Linked DNA regions of Homo sapiens: region 2 is linked to region 1. Evidence: fine-mapped expression QTL. Tissue or cell type: whole blood. Region 1 holds a variant in brackets; the other region holds the start of a gene. All regions are shown on one strand. Distances are from middle to middle.

Region 1 (8,260 bases):
GAGACCTGGGAGAGGTGACCAGTGTGGGGGACACTATGTTGCCCAGCCCTCTGCATTCTGTGTCCGAGGGCCCCCCAGAGCCCCAGGACTTATCCTGACCCACCCCCCCAACCCTGTGTCATGCAAGCCCAAAAGCCAGCGTCTCTTCCTGGCTGCCCAGGACTGCTGAGATGCAGGAAGGTGGGCATCTGAGGTGTCAGTGGGAGACTGTTGGGGGTAGGGGTGGGAACCCTGGCTTCCTGAGAGCAGGAATGGTGGACATGTGGGACCCTTCTGCTGGGGTGGGGCCGGGTGCAGTTCCTCTCCTGCCTGAGGCACCCCATTCCATCACTTGCTGAGGCCTGAGCCCTTCAGCCACCATCTGGGGGATGCAGTCACAGCGGGAGATCGTGCTCCCCACTGTAAGTTGGCAGCCTGTTTATCAGTCTGGCCTAAGAGGTGCAGCTTTCCGAGTGATTTCCCAGATCCTGATCCACCCCAGAAAATGAGCACATGGAGTCTCGACACTCCCTGGGACCTCACTTAGCTCCCCAGAGCCCTTCTGTCTGTCTGTCCATCTCTCTCCTGCTTTAAGGAGTTGTCCTGTCCCTGGGCAGACAGACTCCCAGGATCTGCTGGGAAAGACCCGTTGGGCTCTGACCCCAAATGGTTTCTGATTGCTGGAGGGATGCACCTCTTAACAGCTATGTTCTATGCATGTTACCCGGGGGCAGGGGCAAACAGGAAGTGCTTCTGGTGTTCAGAGGGCTGGAGGAGTGAAGGGTGGGGGGCTGCCTGGAGGAGGTGGCATGCTTCTGGAACAGATGAAAGAAAACAGTAAGTGTCAGAGCCAGGTCCTTTCAGGACACTGTTAGTGGTGGACAGTGATGATCTCCATTTTACAGATGAGCAAACTGGGGCTCAGAGACATTAGGGACCTGATCCAGGTGGTCCAGAGGCCAAAGAGGCCAGGTTTGAAGCTGGGTCTGTTTGATCCAAACCTGGGGCTTGTTTCGTTGTGCCCTGGTGCAGCCCAAGATGCGCATGTCCAGGCGGAAGATGTAGCCAGGTTAGCGTAACATTGGGGATTCAGGAGGAGCCTGGTTAAGGGGAGTAGAGGGCATGAGAGGAGCGATACTAGCCAGGAGGGGGCAGATGGGAGAAGAGTTTGTATTTAATGCTGCTGGAAATCTGATGATGCCACTCCACTTGCATAAAACCCTCGGTGGCTCCCCAATACCCTTGCAAAAGCCATAAATCCTCACTAGGGCTTCAAGATCCACCTTGGCCCTGCTTCCCTCAGCAGCCTCATCTCTCCCTGTGCTGGCACATGCTCACTTCATCCCCTGCAGGTCCTCAGTCTCACTCTGGGACCTTTGCCTACCAACCCCTTCTCTCTGGAGTGTTCTGCCCCACTCCCCTGGATGACTCACCCCCCACTCATTCTCCTCATCTCCACCTAAATGTCACCTCCTCCAGGAAGACTTCCTTGATCTCCTGAGTGCTCGCAGCCCCCTCGGCTTTCCTGTCACTCCGATCTAATTATTATATCTTTAGTGTCTGTTCCATACCCCCTGCCTGCCCCCACCTTAGTCTGTGAGCCCCATGAAGGGCAAAAACCAAGTCTGTTTATCACTGGATCCTTAGTGCCAAGAATGAATGGTGCCGGCACATAGCAGATACCCAACTGAAATTTATTGAATAAATGCATGAATAAAGAATGAATGAGGTAAGAAACCAGTGAAATTTTAGGTAGGAAGAGTAAATTGACAGAAATTGGCTGGTCGTGGTGCAGGATCAGGGCAAAAGGAATACTGATTCAGACAGAATGTCACCCCACTGTGCCTCAAGCCCCCAAAGTGCCCCCGATTTCATCCCACTTCCTCTGTCCTTTGCGTGGAGGTGGGGAGGGGACTCAGCCGGGGCCCTGAAGACATCCCTGCCTTACTCCTCCCTCCCTTTCCCCCAGCCTCCACCTGTGGACTGGAACTCCAGGTACCTTAGAGGCACTCCTCAGCCCTGCAGCTTGCCAGGGGCACTGATTTCTGGAGAAAATCTTAATGGAAATCTCTCCAGCTATTTTTCTCTCTATGAGGAATTAGCAACCACAAAGTGCTGTTTTGCAAATGGTGGCCCTAAGAAGCTGCTTTCTCAGGGCTTCGGTGATCACCAGGAAGACCATCAGTTATTGAGCACCTGCTGTGTGCATTTTCCAGGAAGACCATCAGTTATTGAGCACCTGCTGTGTGCATTTTCCATGAACAGTTTCTGTTCTTTACCACCATCTTGTGTGGTTGGAAATTTCATTCTCTCCACTTTAGGAATGGAGGGAATTGGAACTCAGAGAGAAGAGATTTGCTGAGGTCATTCACTGGAGAAGGTTGGAAACCGTGTTCATGTCAAGGTCTGTCTCTGAAGTCCTTGAGTAACTTCAGGGTGGGCACCGGATCCAGCTGCTGTGGTTCAGGTGCGATTCCTCCACATACATCTACATCATCTTGGGCAAAGGCTCCAGCTTGCTGTGCCTTAGCTTCCTTATCTGTACAGTGGGCACAATAATAGTAACCACTTCCCTGCATCATTGTGAAAAGTTAATAGTTGAGAAAATATTTAAAGTATTTGGCATGACGTCGTATGTTCTCACTCATAAGTGGGAGCTAAGCTATGAGGATGCAGAAGCATAAGGATGACACCGTGGAGTTTGGAGACTCAGCGGGAAAGGGTGGGAGGGAGGTGAGGGATAAAAGACTACAAATTGGGCCGGGTGCAGTGGCTCATGCCTGTAATCCCAGCACTTTGGGAGGCCGAGGCAGGTGGATCACGAGGTCAAGAGATTGAGACCATCTGGCTAAGATGGTGAAACCCCGTCTCTACTAAACATACAAAAATTAGCTGGGGGTGGTGGTGCACACCTGCAGTCCCAGGTACTTGGGAGGCTGAGGCAGGAGAATCACTTGAACCCGGGACGCGGATGTTGTAGTGAGCCGAGATGGTGCCACTGCACTCCAGCCTGGCGACAGTGAGACTCTGTCTCAAAAAAAAAAAAAAAAAAGACTACAAATTGGGTGCAGTGTATACTGCTTGGGTGATGGGTGCATCAAAATCTCACAGCTCACCACTAAAGAACTTACTCATGTTACCAAACACCACCTGTTCCCCAATAACCTATGGAAATAAAAAGTTTTAAATAATTAAATGTTTGGCACAGCGCATTAGACACAGAGCTCAGTCAGGTTAGCAGTTTGCATTAAAGTAAACCAATTTTGTTAGGTGCCTACTAGATGCTGGGGCTATAGCAGGGGAACAGGGCAGAGCCCACCCTCATGGTCTTACCTTCTGGCATTGCCACGCCACATGATATAAGGTATTCTTCTCTGAGCCTTGAGCCATGTCTACATTCACCCATTCCACAAATGTTAGTTGAATGTCTCGTATGTGCCAGGCAGGCCAGGTAAGGAGTAATACGCTGCCTCTCCCTGCAGGTAGAAGACAGGTAGAGGCAGGGGTCTGAGATGAAATAGATGAGAGCTCCAA[G/A]GAAATGTGTGTTGGGATTACGATTTGGGAAGAAGAGCGTCAGAGAGAACCTTCAGGAGTCATTAGAGAGGGGAGGGTCATCCAGGAGCAGGACACAGAGCATACAAAGGCCTGGAGTCACATTAAACTTAGTGGCTATTGGACTCCTTTTCTTTCCTAAACTCTGCAAATAGGTGTGATCAGGGACATGGCAACTTTAACCCTGACCGGCTTTATATTCACTACCTGTATCCTCTCACTTAATCTGCACAACAGTCCTGTAGTTATTGTTGTAAACGTGTAGGGATAGAGTCTTGCTTCTCTTATTTTACAGAAGCAGAGAGGTGGAATGCTGTGTCCAAAGGCACCCAGTTATCGGGTCGCCAGGTTTGCAAACACAAGCGCAAAAACACAGCATTCCCAGTTAAAAGTGAATTTCAGATGAATAATGAGTGATTTTTTTTAAAAAAGATAAATCTATCCCCTAGAGATCTTTGATATACTAAAAAATTATTTGCTACCCAGTTTTTGGTAACCTCACCCCATTTCCTTTCGTTTCTTTTCTTTCTTTCTTTTTTTCTTTAAGATGAAGTCTGGCTGTGTCGCCCAGGCTAGAGTGCAGTGGCATAATCTCGGCTCACTGGAACCTCCGCCTCCCGGGTTCAAGCGATTCTCCTGCCTCAGCCTCCCAAGTAGCTGGGATTGCAGGCGCCCGCCACCAAGCCCGGCTAATTTTTGTATTTTAATAGAGATGAGATTTCACCATGCTGGCCAGGCTGGTCTCGAACTCCTGACCTCAGGTGTGATTCGTCCGCCTTGGCCTCCCAAATTGTTGAGATTACAAGGCGCGAGCCACCGCGCCTGGCCCTCACCCCGTTTCTGAACCTCATTTAGCCTGTTTTTTTTTTTTCCTTGAAAATAAAGGTGGTTGTAATTATGATCTGGATTTCTTGAGGGCCTACGACGCACCAGGCTCTGTGCTAAGTGTTATACACAGAGTATCTTGAGCTTCCCACTAAAGGCAAGTCGCGGGGGGCCCACCTGCGCCCTCTGTGCCCGCCTGGTAGCCCGCAGTTCTGTAAACAGCCACGAGGTGTCGCCCTCTGCCCGTGGTATCCTGACGGCGGCGGGGGCGGCCGGGCGCGCGCGGCCCATTCATCACCGCGCGGCCGCGGCGCCCAGACAATGTGGGGAGCGGCCCTGGCCCGCGCCCGCGCGGCTGTCTGTACAAAGGATGCGCTGTTAACACGTGTACGGTAATGGGCTCCCTCACGGCCTCCTCCCCGGCCACCCGCTCCCAGCCTGACGGATGGCCCGAGCCATCCATCTACATTATGTCATGGGCGGTGAGCCTCCTCCTCCGTCCAGTCCGTCTGGCCGTCCAGGACCAGCCATGGCCTTGGCCGTGCGCCCTACTTGGGCAACCCCCATTCCCTTCCCCTCTGCGGAAGGAACCTCGTGCGGAGTGAGGCCTACTACGTGCTGGGCCCCAGCTGTGCTGTCTCCTTGATTTTCATGCAAGGTGATGTGGCTTATTAGCCCATCCTGCAGAGGAGGAAACTGAGACTTGAAGCTGGGAAACCTTTATTCTAAGAACACACAGCTCTGGGGTTTGATAGAGTTGGAATTTTTTTTTCTTACAGCTTTGTTGAGACTAGACTTCTCATACCATAGAATTCACACATGTAAAGTATACATTTCAATTTTTTTTTGTATGTTCACATAGTTCTGCAACCATCACCACAATTCAATTTTACAGCATTTTAGTAAATTCTCCCAAAGAAATCTTCTATCTGTTAGCAATCCCTCCAGCCCTTGTCAATCATTAATCTACTCTCTATCTGTGTAGATTCTCGACATTTCATACAAACGAAATCATGTAACATGTGGCCTTCTGTGCCTGGCCTATTTCACTTAGTATAATTTCAAGGTTCACCCATGTTGCAATGTGCATTAGTACTTCATTCCTTTTTATTGCAGAATAATATTCCATTGTATGGATATACCACATTTTATTGATTCATTTGCTCATTGTTTCCACTTTTTGGCTACTATGAATAATGCTGTGAAAAGGTTTTATGCGGATAGATATTTTCAATTTCCTTGCAGTGAAACTGCCAGATCGTATGGTAACATGATATTTAACTGCTCAAATATCTGCCAGACTGTTTTCAGAGTGGCTATACCATTTTACATTCCCACCAGCAGTGTATGAGGATTTGGGTTTCTCTGCATCCTTGTCAACACTTGCTACTATCTGCCTTTTTGATTCTAGCCACCCTAGGGGGTAGGAAGTGTATCTCATCGTGGTTTTGAGTTGCACTTCCCTGATGACCAAGGATGTCAGACATCTTTTCATTTGCTTACTGGCCATTCGTATATCTTCTTTGGAGAGAAATACTTATTCATATCCTTTGCTCATTTTTTAAAAAATGGGTTGATTGGCCAGGTGCGGTGGCTCACACCTGTAATCCCAGCACTTTGGGAGGCCAAGGTGGGCGGATCACCTGAGGTCAGGAGTTCAAGACCAGCCTAGGCAACACGGTGAAACCCCATCTCTACTAAAAATACAAAAATTAGCTGGGAACGGTGGGACATGCCTGTAATCCTAGCTACTCGGGAGGCTGAGGCAGGAGAATCACGTGAGCCCTGGAGGTGGAGGTTGCAGTAAGCCAGGATTGCGCCATTGCACTCCAGCCTGGGCGACAGAGTGAGATTCCGTCTGAAGAAAAAAAAGTTGGGTTGTCTTTTGATTGTTGAATTGTAAGCATTCTTTATATATTCTGGATACAAATCAGTTATCTGATATAAGAATCGGGAATATTTTCTCCCGTTCTATGGAGGGTCTTTTTACTATATGGTTTTGTTTGCAGCACAAAAGTTTTAAGTTTTGGTGGAAGTCCAACACACCCGTGTTTCTCTTTTGGTGCTTGTGTTTCTGGTATTGTCTTTCAGAACTAAGCTCTGTGGGACTCTAAAATTGGTCCTCTTTTTACTCCACTGAAGTGACAGGTATTTGCTCCCCCATAGGGATTGTGGAAGGAGCTGGTCAGGACTTGGTGGTTGTCTCAGGCTGGTCGGGCATGGAGCTGTGGGGAAGAACAATGACCCTGGAATAAACAATCTGGGTTCCAATCCTGGTTGGGCTATTGCTTTCCTTGGTTCACTGCCACTGAGACTCAGTTTTTTCATCTGTACAATGGAGATAATCGCACGTACCCTTGAGGTGGCTGTGAGATTAAACGAGGGGGTCCGAACACATGGAAGATGCTTGATAAACACAGCTGTGATGACAAAGGCCTGTGAGGTCCCTGAGAAGAGGCCCCGGCTCTCCGCTCTCCCCAGCATGGTGTGAGGCTCTGAACCCAGAACTTACAGCTGTGTTCCTACCCTTGGGATGCAGGTATTGGGATGCATGGCTAGGAGTCCCTGAGACTCCCTGTGCAAATGAACTTTTTTTCAAGTGTCTTAACTCAAAGCACAGTTTTTCTTTGTCCTGCTGAAAACTGCAAGGGCCTCAGAGTGAAGCAGAAGGGATCACTGGGCTTTCAGGCAGAGGGAGGCAGTGGCTCAGGTGGACCCATCGTCTCTGCTGGGTCTCTCCTGGCTCCCACAGCCACTTTATCTGACGTGGATTCTGTGAGGGGGTTCAGAGATGAGTGAAGATCCCAGCTAGGAAAAGGCACCTGGAAAGGAGGTGTTATCACCTTCCTTGGTACTGGTGATGCAACTGAGGCTCAGACAGGTGAAAGCCACTTGACCAAGGCCATACACCTCCCCCTTGAAAAGCAATGCAAAAAAGAGCTCCTGGCCTCTGGGCCTGAGGATCTTCAGGCATCATTCTGGGACATGCTGGGGAAAGTAGGCCTTCTCCCCATTGCGATCAGGGCCTCAGGAAAGTCCCTGTCTGCAGTGCACCTGCTCTGCCCCTCAGTGGGGCAGGGGGCTTTGGAGCCATGCAGGCCTGGGCTGAAATCTGGCTACCCACCACTTACTCTCTGAACTTCAGTCTCTTCATCTTTCCAGTGGAGATACTTATTGTTCCTGCCTCCAAGGTGGCTCTGAGGATAAAATAATTGAGGCGGGTACCAGCTTAGTATGGACTTGACCCTTAGTGAGTGCTTTGAAATAAAGACTATTACTATGGTTATTAATAACTGAGACAAGAGCTCTGCAACATAGATTCACATTGGGATGGCAGAGGCAGTGGGTGGGGTGGTGGTCAGACCGTTCCCCCATCAGGCATGGGCCCCAGAGCTGGAATGTTCAGGGCGTCAGGAAGCTGAGGGCGCTGTCCACTGGTGGACGGAGTTGGAGAAAACTGATTCTGACCCAGAAGGCAGCAGGTGGCAGGGCAGTTACCGAATGCAGAGCTGCTGGAGATGAGAAGACCTCGGGTCATGGCTCTGCTGAAGCCCGGCTGTGGAGAATGGGTCTTGCTGGCTGGTGGGGCTTCCTGTCCCAGAGCCTGGGTTGTGCTGGGTGGTGGTGGGGCTGGGAAATGGCTTAGCCCCTCCTGCCCCTCCAGATGACAGACGGACAGATAGACAGACAGACGGACACTCCACTAGGGGAACATCACCCATTTCTCATGGGTGTAGCCTCCTACTTCTCCAGCATCCTTCCGGAAATTTGTTTCCCTGGCTGTTGCTTCTCTCTGTGTATTTGTGTTCCCTGGGGCCTGGCCCCTAGCAGGGGCTGGCTCCTAGCAGGTGCTCAGTTAATGCCTGCTGGGGTCAGGGGGAATGAATCGACATCGTCTCTTTAG
Region 2 (8,000 bases), 330 kb before region 1:
ATGAGACGGTGTAATGATAGGTTGTGTAGTCTCGGAGTGGGTAGGATGACTGCGCTAAAGAAGGCAGCGAGAGCAGGAGGATGCAGGTGGCAGCCAAGCTGAAGGCAGGCAATTCAGATGCCCTTGGTCCTCCTCTCCGCCTCTCCATGAGCACAGTAACAATTTATCTGGAGCTCTCACCCAAAATCCCCCTCTGAAAGGCATGGATATCCTTTTCTGCAGAATTCACCTAGTAGGGTCTCCAAGGGGTTGACAGAGGCCCAGGTCATTTCCATTTATTGAGACTCCCAGCTAATTAAAAAGATGAAGAAATGGTAAGCAGGGCTAACAAAATTGCGTGTATAGTAATATTGCCATTGAACAAATAAATACTAACAAATGCAGAGCAGTGGTCTACAGATATCATATAATTGCACTGGTCAAGGACACTTATAGGATTGATAGACAATATTAATTCATAATACAGTACAGATAAGATGGTGCAGGAATGGAACACATATTTACAATATAAAAATATCTTTTTTTTTTCAAACCTGCCAGGATAATGCTGTGATAGAATGTATGACTGCCTTTGGAGAATTCTAAGTTTGAGCAACTTTCTGAATGTGAGATGAGTCAAATACCCCCCACTCCATTTTCTCCACCCCACCCAGGCTCAACCACTCTTAGGCTGACAGTGAAGACAGACATCCCATTTAATGTTTCTAAATCTGATGCCTGTGTTGATTATCCACACTTTGAGCAAATCTGTGCATATTATGGTTTCCCAATGCAAGTGTTTTGGTTTATTTTAGTAGAATAAAAGAGAAAAAACATTCTTCCTCTTTTGGAGTTGAGAAAAGGAGAGAAATGACAGAGATGAAGAAGAGTCTAAGACATGGAAGAGGTGTATTCTGGGACATGGGAGAGGTGTACTCTGGGACATGGAAGAAGTGGGTTCTGGGACATGACAAACTGGGTTCTGGAACAGGGAGGAGGTGGATTTTAGGCTATCACAGTAGAGGCAGATTCTTAGGTCAGGGACCAGGTGGATTTTGGGACAGAGATGAGAGGTGGGTTCTGGGACATGGTGGAGGTGGGCTCTGGGACAGGGAGGAGGTACATTCTGGAACAGGGTGAAGGTGGCTTCTGGAACAGGGAGGAGGTGGGTACTGGGACAGGGTGGAGGTGGGTCTTGGAACAGGGAGGAGGTGAGTTCTGGAACAGGGTGGAAGTGAGTTCTGGAACAGAGAGGGGGTGGGTCCTGGAACAGGGAGGAGGTGGGTTCTGGCACAGGGTGGAGGTGGGTCCTGGGACAGGGAGGAGGTGGGTCCTGGGACAGGGAGGAGGTGAGTTCTGGAACAGGGTGGAGGTGAGTTCTGGAACAGAGAGGGGGTGGGTCCTGGAACAGGGAGGAGGTGGGTTCTGGCACAGGGTGGAGGTGGGTCCTGGGACAGGGAGGAGGTGGGTCCTGGGACAGGGAGGAGGTGAGTTCTGGAACAGGGTGGAGGTGAGTTCTGGAACAGAGAGGGGGTGGGTCCTGGAACAGGGAGGAGGTGGGTTCTGGCACAGGGTGGAGGTGGGTCCTGGGACAGGGAGGAGGTGGGTCCTGGGACAGGGAGGAAGTGCGTTCTGGAAGAGGGAGGAGGTGCGTTCTGGAAGAGGGAGGAGGTGGGTTCTGGAAGAGGGAGGAGGTGGGTTCTAGAAGAGAGAGGAGGTGGGTTCTGTAGCAGGAAGGAGGTAGGTTCTGGCACAGGGTGAAGGTGGGTCCTGGGACAGGGAGTAGGTGGGTTCTGGAACAGGAAGGAGGTATGTTCTGGAACAGGGTGAAGGTGGCTTCTGGAATAGGGAGGAGGTGGGCTCTGGGACAGGGTGGAGGTGGGTCCTGGGACAGGGAGGAGGTGGGTCCTGGGACAGGGTGGAAGTGGGTCCTGGGACAGAAAGAAGGTAGGTTCTGGAAGAGGGAGGAGGTGGGCTCTGGAAGAGGGAGGAGGTGGGTTCTGGAAGAGGGAGGAGGTGGGTTCTGTAACAGGAAGGAGGTGAGTTCTGGCACAGGGTGGAGGTGGGTCCTGGGACAGGGAGGGAGGTGGGTTCTGGAACAGGAAGGAGGTACGTTCTGGAACAGGGTGAAGGTGGCTTCTGGAATAGGGATGAGAAATGGATTCTGGGACAGACATGAGGTGGCTTCTGGGCCATGTTAGAGATAAATTCTGGGACACAAGAGAGGTGGGTCTGGGACAGAGACAGATGGATTGTGGGCGGGCCATCCTACTCTATGCTCCCAGAACCCACCCATGCAGTTTCCCTGGCGCCCCTAACACATCCCGTAGCCACTGTTAGTCTCCCCCAGGTCTTAGCTCAAACGTCACCTCCTCCAAGCAGCCTCCTTGGGGCCTCCATTCGCAGCTCATCAGTCCCCTGGTCAGACAACCGTCCTGCCTGTACTTCCCCTCCTAAACCCTACCCGGGGGTGAGGGTCCCCTCCCGCTAGACGGTGGCTCACTGAGGGCAGGGCGGGCCTGAGCGCTCACCGCGCACGCTCAGCGCAGCTGGCAGGGACGGGGACCCAGGCTGGCCCATCATTACTGTACTGAGCGAATGAGTTTTCCATGAGACTAAGAATCTGGTTTGATTTGCGGTTCCATTCCAAGTGCCTGAGGGCCTCAGAAGTCCGTGTTGAGTCCATCAATAAAGGAAAGAAGGCGTTAGGGCGAGAGGAAGTGAGGTGGGGGGGAAGTGAAAGAGAATGAAAAGGAGGAAATGGAGACGAGGGCGACTCAGAGAGGAACAGAGAGACAGAGGGAGGGAGAACTGAGAAAGACACAGAGCGAAAAACGAAAGAGCGAAGGAAGCGACGCGAGCCTTTCTTAATGAATGACTGCACGCCCGTCGCCGCCTGCGCGCAACCTCGGGCTGGGCGGGCGCTGCGTCTCGGGGCGCACTGCCAGGACCCTCCGGAGCGGCGGCGGGCGCGGCCTCGGGTCGCCTCCCGCACTGCGAGCGCAGGTGCCGGGTGCAGGGGGGTCCCCGGCCCCGCCCCGCAGGCCCCGCCCCCCCGTACCCCCTCCCCCGGCGGCCCAGCGCGCGCGGCATTGTGGGAGTTGTGGTCTTCGCGGCCCCGCGGAGCGCAGCGCGGCGTCGGCACCGGCAGGGGCACCGGCGCGGCTTAGGCTCGGGCTCGGGCTCCGGCTCGGGCTCCCGCGGCGTGGGCTGGGCAGCAGCCAGGCGGCGGCTCCGCGGCGCCGGGCAGGGGCCGTCCGCGGGTCCGCGCCCTCGGGCGGCGGCGTCTCCTGGGTCCCGGCAGCCGTCCGCGCGCCCGGGCGCAGGTAAGCTTCGTCTCCGGGGGCTGCCGGGGCGGGAGGGCGGCGCGGCTGGGCCGACCCCAGGACAGGGGTTGGAGGCGGGAGCCCGGCAGCTGCAGGCCCACGGCCCTCCCTTACCGGCGCCGCCGCCGCCGCCGCCCCCGCCGAGGATGCTCCGGGACCCGGGCGCCCGCATCCCGGCCCGGCCGAGGCCAGTGCTCGTACGTGCTAAGCGCCGCCGCCTCGGAGCCGGGCATCACCCTCCCTAGACCTCCTCCTACTCCTCTTCCCTGCCCCATCGTGGTCCCTTCCTCCATCTCCCTTCTCCCCTGTGACCCCTCTTTCCTCACCTCCTGTCCCCTCCCCCAGCCCTCAGCATCACCCACTTCCCATATTTCACGTGGTGACCCTCCTCCCCTGTCCCACGAATTATGAGGCGCCATAAACCTCCTTCCACAATCTTGAGCTGATCGTCCACTTTTCCGGGCAACACTCACCTTTCCATCGTCCCATCCCCCTCCTCCCCTGACCTCCTGGTGGTCACCATCTGTGCTAACCCATCTTCAGCCCTCCCCTCTTTCCCACTCTCCAGGGCAGGTGGGTGCTGAGAAGCTGGCCAAGAGAGGGAAGGTCCCCAGGTCTGCACCGGGAAGGGCTGGCCCCACGGCATCTCTCTGGCTCCTGAGTGGAGAGGGTGACAGGCATCACACACCTTGCCCAGTGCTGCTCACTGGGGGGCTTCCAGGGTGACTTGGCCTCATCCTGAGGGTGAGCAGACACTCTTTGGCATTAGGCAGCCTCTGGGAATGGACATCTGAACTAGGCTGACCAGGTCAGGCCTGACACCGGCTCTCCCAGGTGTTCATGGTGTGAGAAGTTGTCTTGGATTGGACTTGCTCTCCAACTGGCCATGGATTTGGACTCAATTCCCCAGAGCCAACTGAGCTGGAAGATCTGGGGTTGCTTATTATTAAAGTGCAGAGCTGCAATGAGATGTCCCCATCCCTGATGAGGACAGAAATAACACAGATGACAATGAACAGATGTGCGAAGGAAGCTGGAAGCTACTGTGGTCACTGGGCAAGGAGCTGTCGGGGGAGAGAGTCTCTCCTCTCCCCACTGGGTAGATGGGGAGTTGTCACTAGGTAGCTGTGAGGATCAAATGTTTGAAGCAGTGCTTAATAAACTGCCAGTCACTCTGCAAATGTGTTTCTTTTATTGTCATAGTTCAGCTTTGAGCTTGTAAATCCACCTCCGGGTGCAGGGGCCTGTTGGCATATTTTGGCTAAAAGTGACTGACAGGTATGAAAAGTCCTAACTTGAGCTCTCAGTGCTATTTATGATCTCGGGAGGAGGGTCTGAAGCTGGGGTTCAGAATCTTTTACATTCTTTTGCTTACAGCTCAGCCTTAGGGAGGGCTCATGGCTGGCTTAGTACAGAAGGAGGCTTTCCTGAGAAGAGTACAGGGCTGGGGTGTCCAGTGGAGAGGTTTCTCCATCATCCACCCTGTTTTCTGTGTCTGCATTTTGCTTGACTTAAGTGATCAGCAGGGCTGATGGGAACTAACACTTTACAGGTGCTTGTTAAATTATCACCGTCTCACTCTTAGAACATTTAAGAAAAAAACCTTTCCTCCTGACAGACTCAGTTGAAAAGTTCCAGTAGGGGTTTAGCTCAGTGATGGGGGAAATCCTTTTAGTAAAAGTGCTTGGTGTCACATAGATGATTGTTTCACACTGAATTTCAGGAACTCTGAGGTTCTGTTTGGGAGATGGCTTGCAAACAAAACATCTTTCATCTGGATTTTCTTTCCTTTTCCTAAAGAGTAACAGCTGCCAGTTTATGGTCTAACAAGGAGAGAAACAGGGGGCTGAAGGGGTTTCTTAACCTCCAGTGAGTCATAGCCTTTTCCTCTTCTCCTGAATCTGAGAAGAAATTGAGAATGTGTGGGAAAGAAAAAAAAAAAAAAACAAAAGAAAACAAAAAACAACTTAGCTTCTAACCTCCCCACTCTTGTATTTTTCCTAGAAACATAAAAAATTTCCATGAATATTCAGCATGTGTGTTTTTGACTTACTAAACATTATAGTCAAGTGATTATTCAACCGAAACTGGGAAAAAGCAAGTAGGCAGTTAATGAGCACCTAAGGTTTCCCTTTCATTTTTAGCTTAGCAAGTCTGGGGACAAAAAAGCCACTCAATACATGAGGCAACAAGAGTGTCCAGGATTTACCTTTAACTGTTGGAATTCCGAGTCTTGCTATACCTTTCTCTCGTGCCCCACCTTTGGAACGCTGGCTACTCATTATGGGATGCCACCCATCCTAGCCGTCGCCTGCATATATTGGGTGCTCATTATGACGTGGTCGTAAGTGCTGTCCATCCGCCATCATTCATCTTCATCCAGTGAGATGAACACGAACCCCATTTCATGGATAAAGAAACTGAGGCAGCCAGGCGCAGTGGCTCACGCCTGTAATCCCAACACTTTGGGAGGCTGAGGTGGACGGATCACCTGAGATTGGGATTTCAAGACCAGCCTGACCAACATGGAAAAACCCCATCTCTACTAAAAATACAAAATTAGCTGGGTGTGATGGCGCATGCCTGTAATCCCAGCTACTCAGGAGGCTGAGATAGGAGAATCACTTGAACCTGGAAGGTGGAGGTTGTGGTGAGCCAAGATTGCACCATTGCACCCCAGCCTGGGCGATAAGAGTGAAACTCCGTCTCAAAAGAAAAGAAACAGGCTTAGGAAAAGCGATCTGCCCAAGGTTGGGATGAATCCTCAACTGGGCCCATCTCTAATCTGGCTTCTCTCTGCTACGATGCTGCAAGAATTTTCAGGCCAAATTTCAGTCCCTGGGTAAAGGGAGGGTACAACTTTTCCATTTTTTAAGCTGTGAGAGGGTAGAGTACAAAAGGGATATTTGAAATTGTGCTCCCTGAGTATCAGACTTGTAGAAGCAGAGACCTGGCTGTTCTCATTGTATTAGAAGAAGCAGGATGAACAAAAGGTTTTGGAGAATGCTGGGAAACACGGCTGGGGTTTGAGAGACTTAGGCAGCATGACATTCAGGCCCTTTTAGGTTATTAGGACAATGAGAGTTCCGGGCTCTGTCCCTAACCCCCAGCTAGGTAAGTGGCAAAGCACTTCTGGCTGTTTTGGAGATGCTGTCAGCTGTGGGAAACTGAGGCAGAGGCCTGGAAGGGCTTTTATTTTCATTCTACCTCCCTCATTTTCCTTTCATGACCCTATGGGTGAGACCATAGGTAGTCTCCAGGTGGGTAGACAGAAAATGCCCTTTGCCGCAGGCATGACCTCAAGAGTGCCTACTTCCTCTTCCAACTTGGTATTAGCCCAACCTCTGTCAGAAGGGCAACAGAATGAAATAAGGATGATGAAATGCTTGCAAAGAGAAAGTGAAATGGAGAATATGCAGTTTTTAAGTCCCTTTGCCATTTTTAAGATGCTTTTGAATCCAGGATTCTTTTGAATTAAAGGTACAGCGATCACAGGAGTATAAGCATTGATTAAATACCTATGATGAAATAGCACAGCAAAATGGGTAGACATGGGCCTTGAAGTCAGATGGGGTTTGAGTCTCTGCCCTGGCTGTATAACTCTCGTGAGTTATGTAACTTCTCTGAGCCTCAGTTTTCTCATCTGTAAAATGGGGATAATAGCACCTCCTATGGAGGGCACAAAGCAGATGGGACCACTGTAATTATAAGCAGTACCTGATGCAGATGAAATACTACTGGCCTTTTGGGAAATGGGAGTGGCAGTAGAATGGGGAGGGAATACACAAGATTGCAAAGTGTGACCCCCACCAACTAGGATCCTACAGAACGATCTAACACTTTACATTTCAGTTGAGGACTTTTCCAGGTGTAAAATTTATGCTGATTTTTTTTTTCCATCCCAGGTTTGGTTTTCCTAAACAAATCCTTTCACAGGGACCGACGGCACTTGATAATGTGACAAAAACCAGCCTCTTCCACCCCACTGCAGTGACTTTTGCCGGAAAGTGGAGCAGTGGGCACGGCCAACCTTGTCGTTCATCAATGCCGCCCCTGGCAGTATCTGAGGATCGGTGGCAGCCATGCCTCCCCCTGCCCCAGCCGCTCCTTCCCCCCCACGCTAATCTGCATGGTGTGGGCGCCCTTGGGACCCCCGAGGACTGATTGTCTGACCTTGCTTCACACGCCCAGTAAGGACTCCCCCAAGATGTCGCTCGAGTGGCTGGTGGCCTGGAGCTGGTCGCTGGATGGCCTGAGGGACTGCATCGCCACCGGCATCCAGTCCGTGCGGGACTGCGACACCACCGCTGTCATCACTGTGGCCTGCCTCCTGGTCCTCTTCGTGTGGTACTGTTATCACGTGGGCAGGGAGCAGCCCCGGCCCTACGTCTCCGTCAACTCCCTCATGCAGGCTGCCGATGCCAACGGGCTGCAGAATGGCTACGTGTACTGCCAGTCCCCTGAGTGCGTGCGCTGCACCCACAACGAGGGCCTCAACCAGAAGCTGTACCACAACCTGCAGGAGTACGCCAAGCGCTACTCCTGGTCCGGCATGGGCCGCATCCACAAGGGCATCCGCGAGCAGGGCCGGTACCTCAACAGCCGGCCCTCCATCCAGAAGCCCGAGGTCTTCTTCCTGCCCGACCTGCCCACCACGCCCTATTTCTCCCGGGACGCACAGAAACATGATGTGGA

Evidence for each region. PIP is the estimated chance that this variant, and not a neighbour inherited with it, causes the effect.
Region 2: ASPHD2 starts here. The variant in region 1 is fine-mapped to the expression of ASPHD2 in whole blood (INTERVAL, PIP above 0.99).

What each region holds. Positions count from the first base shown.
Region 1 is chr22:26,752,216-26,760,475 of GRCh38, forward strand. The region is part of intron 2 of MIATNB (MIAT neighbor); the gene reads left to right. Among named protein-coding and RNA genes, the nearest start is that of MIATNB, 84 kb to the left of the region's middle. RefSeq lists enhancers at 1-795, 796-1,793. The variant G/A (reference allele first, on the strand shown) is at 3,514.
Region 2 is chr22:26,426,182-26,434,181 of GRCh38, forward strand. ASPHD2 (aspartate beta-hydroxylase domain containing 2) reads left to right here and starts at 3,079. Exons shown (of 4, transcript NM_020437.5): 1 at 3,079-3,305; 2 at 7,211-8,000. The coding sequence starts at 7,435. RefSeq lists silencers at 2,920-3,049, 3,170-3,229, 4,962-5,256.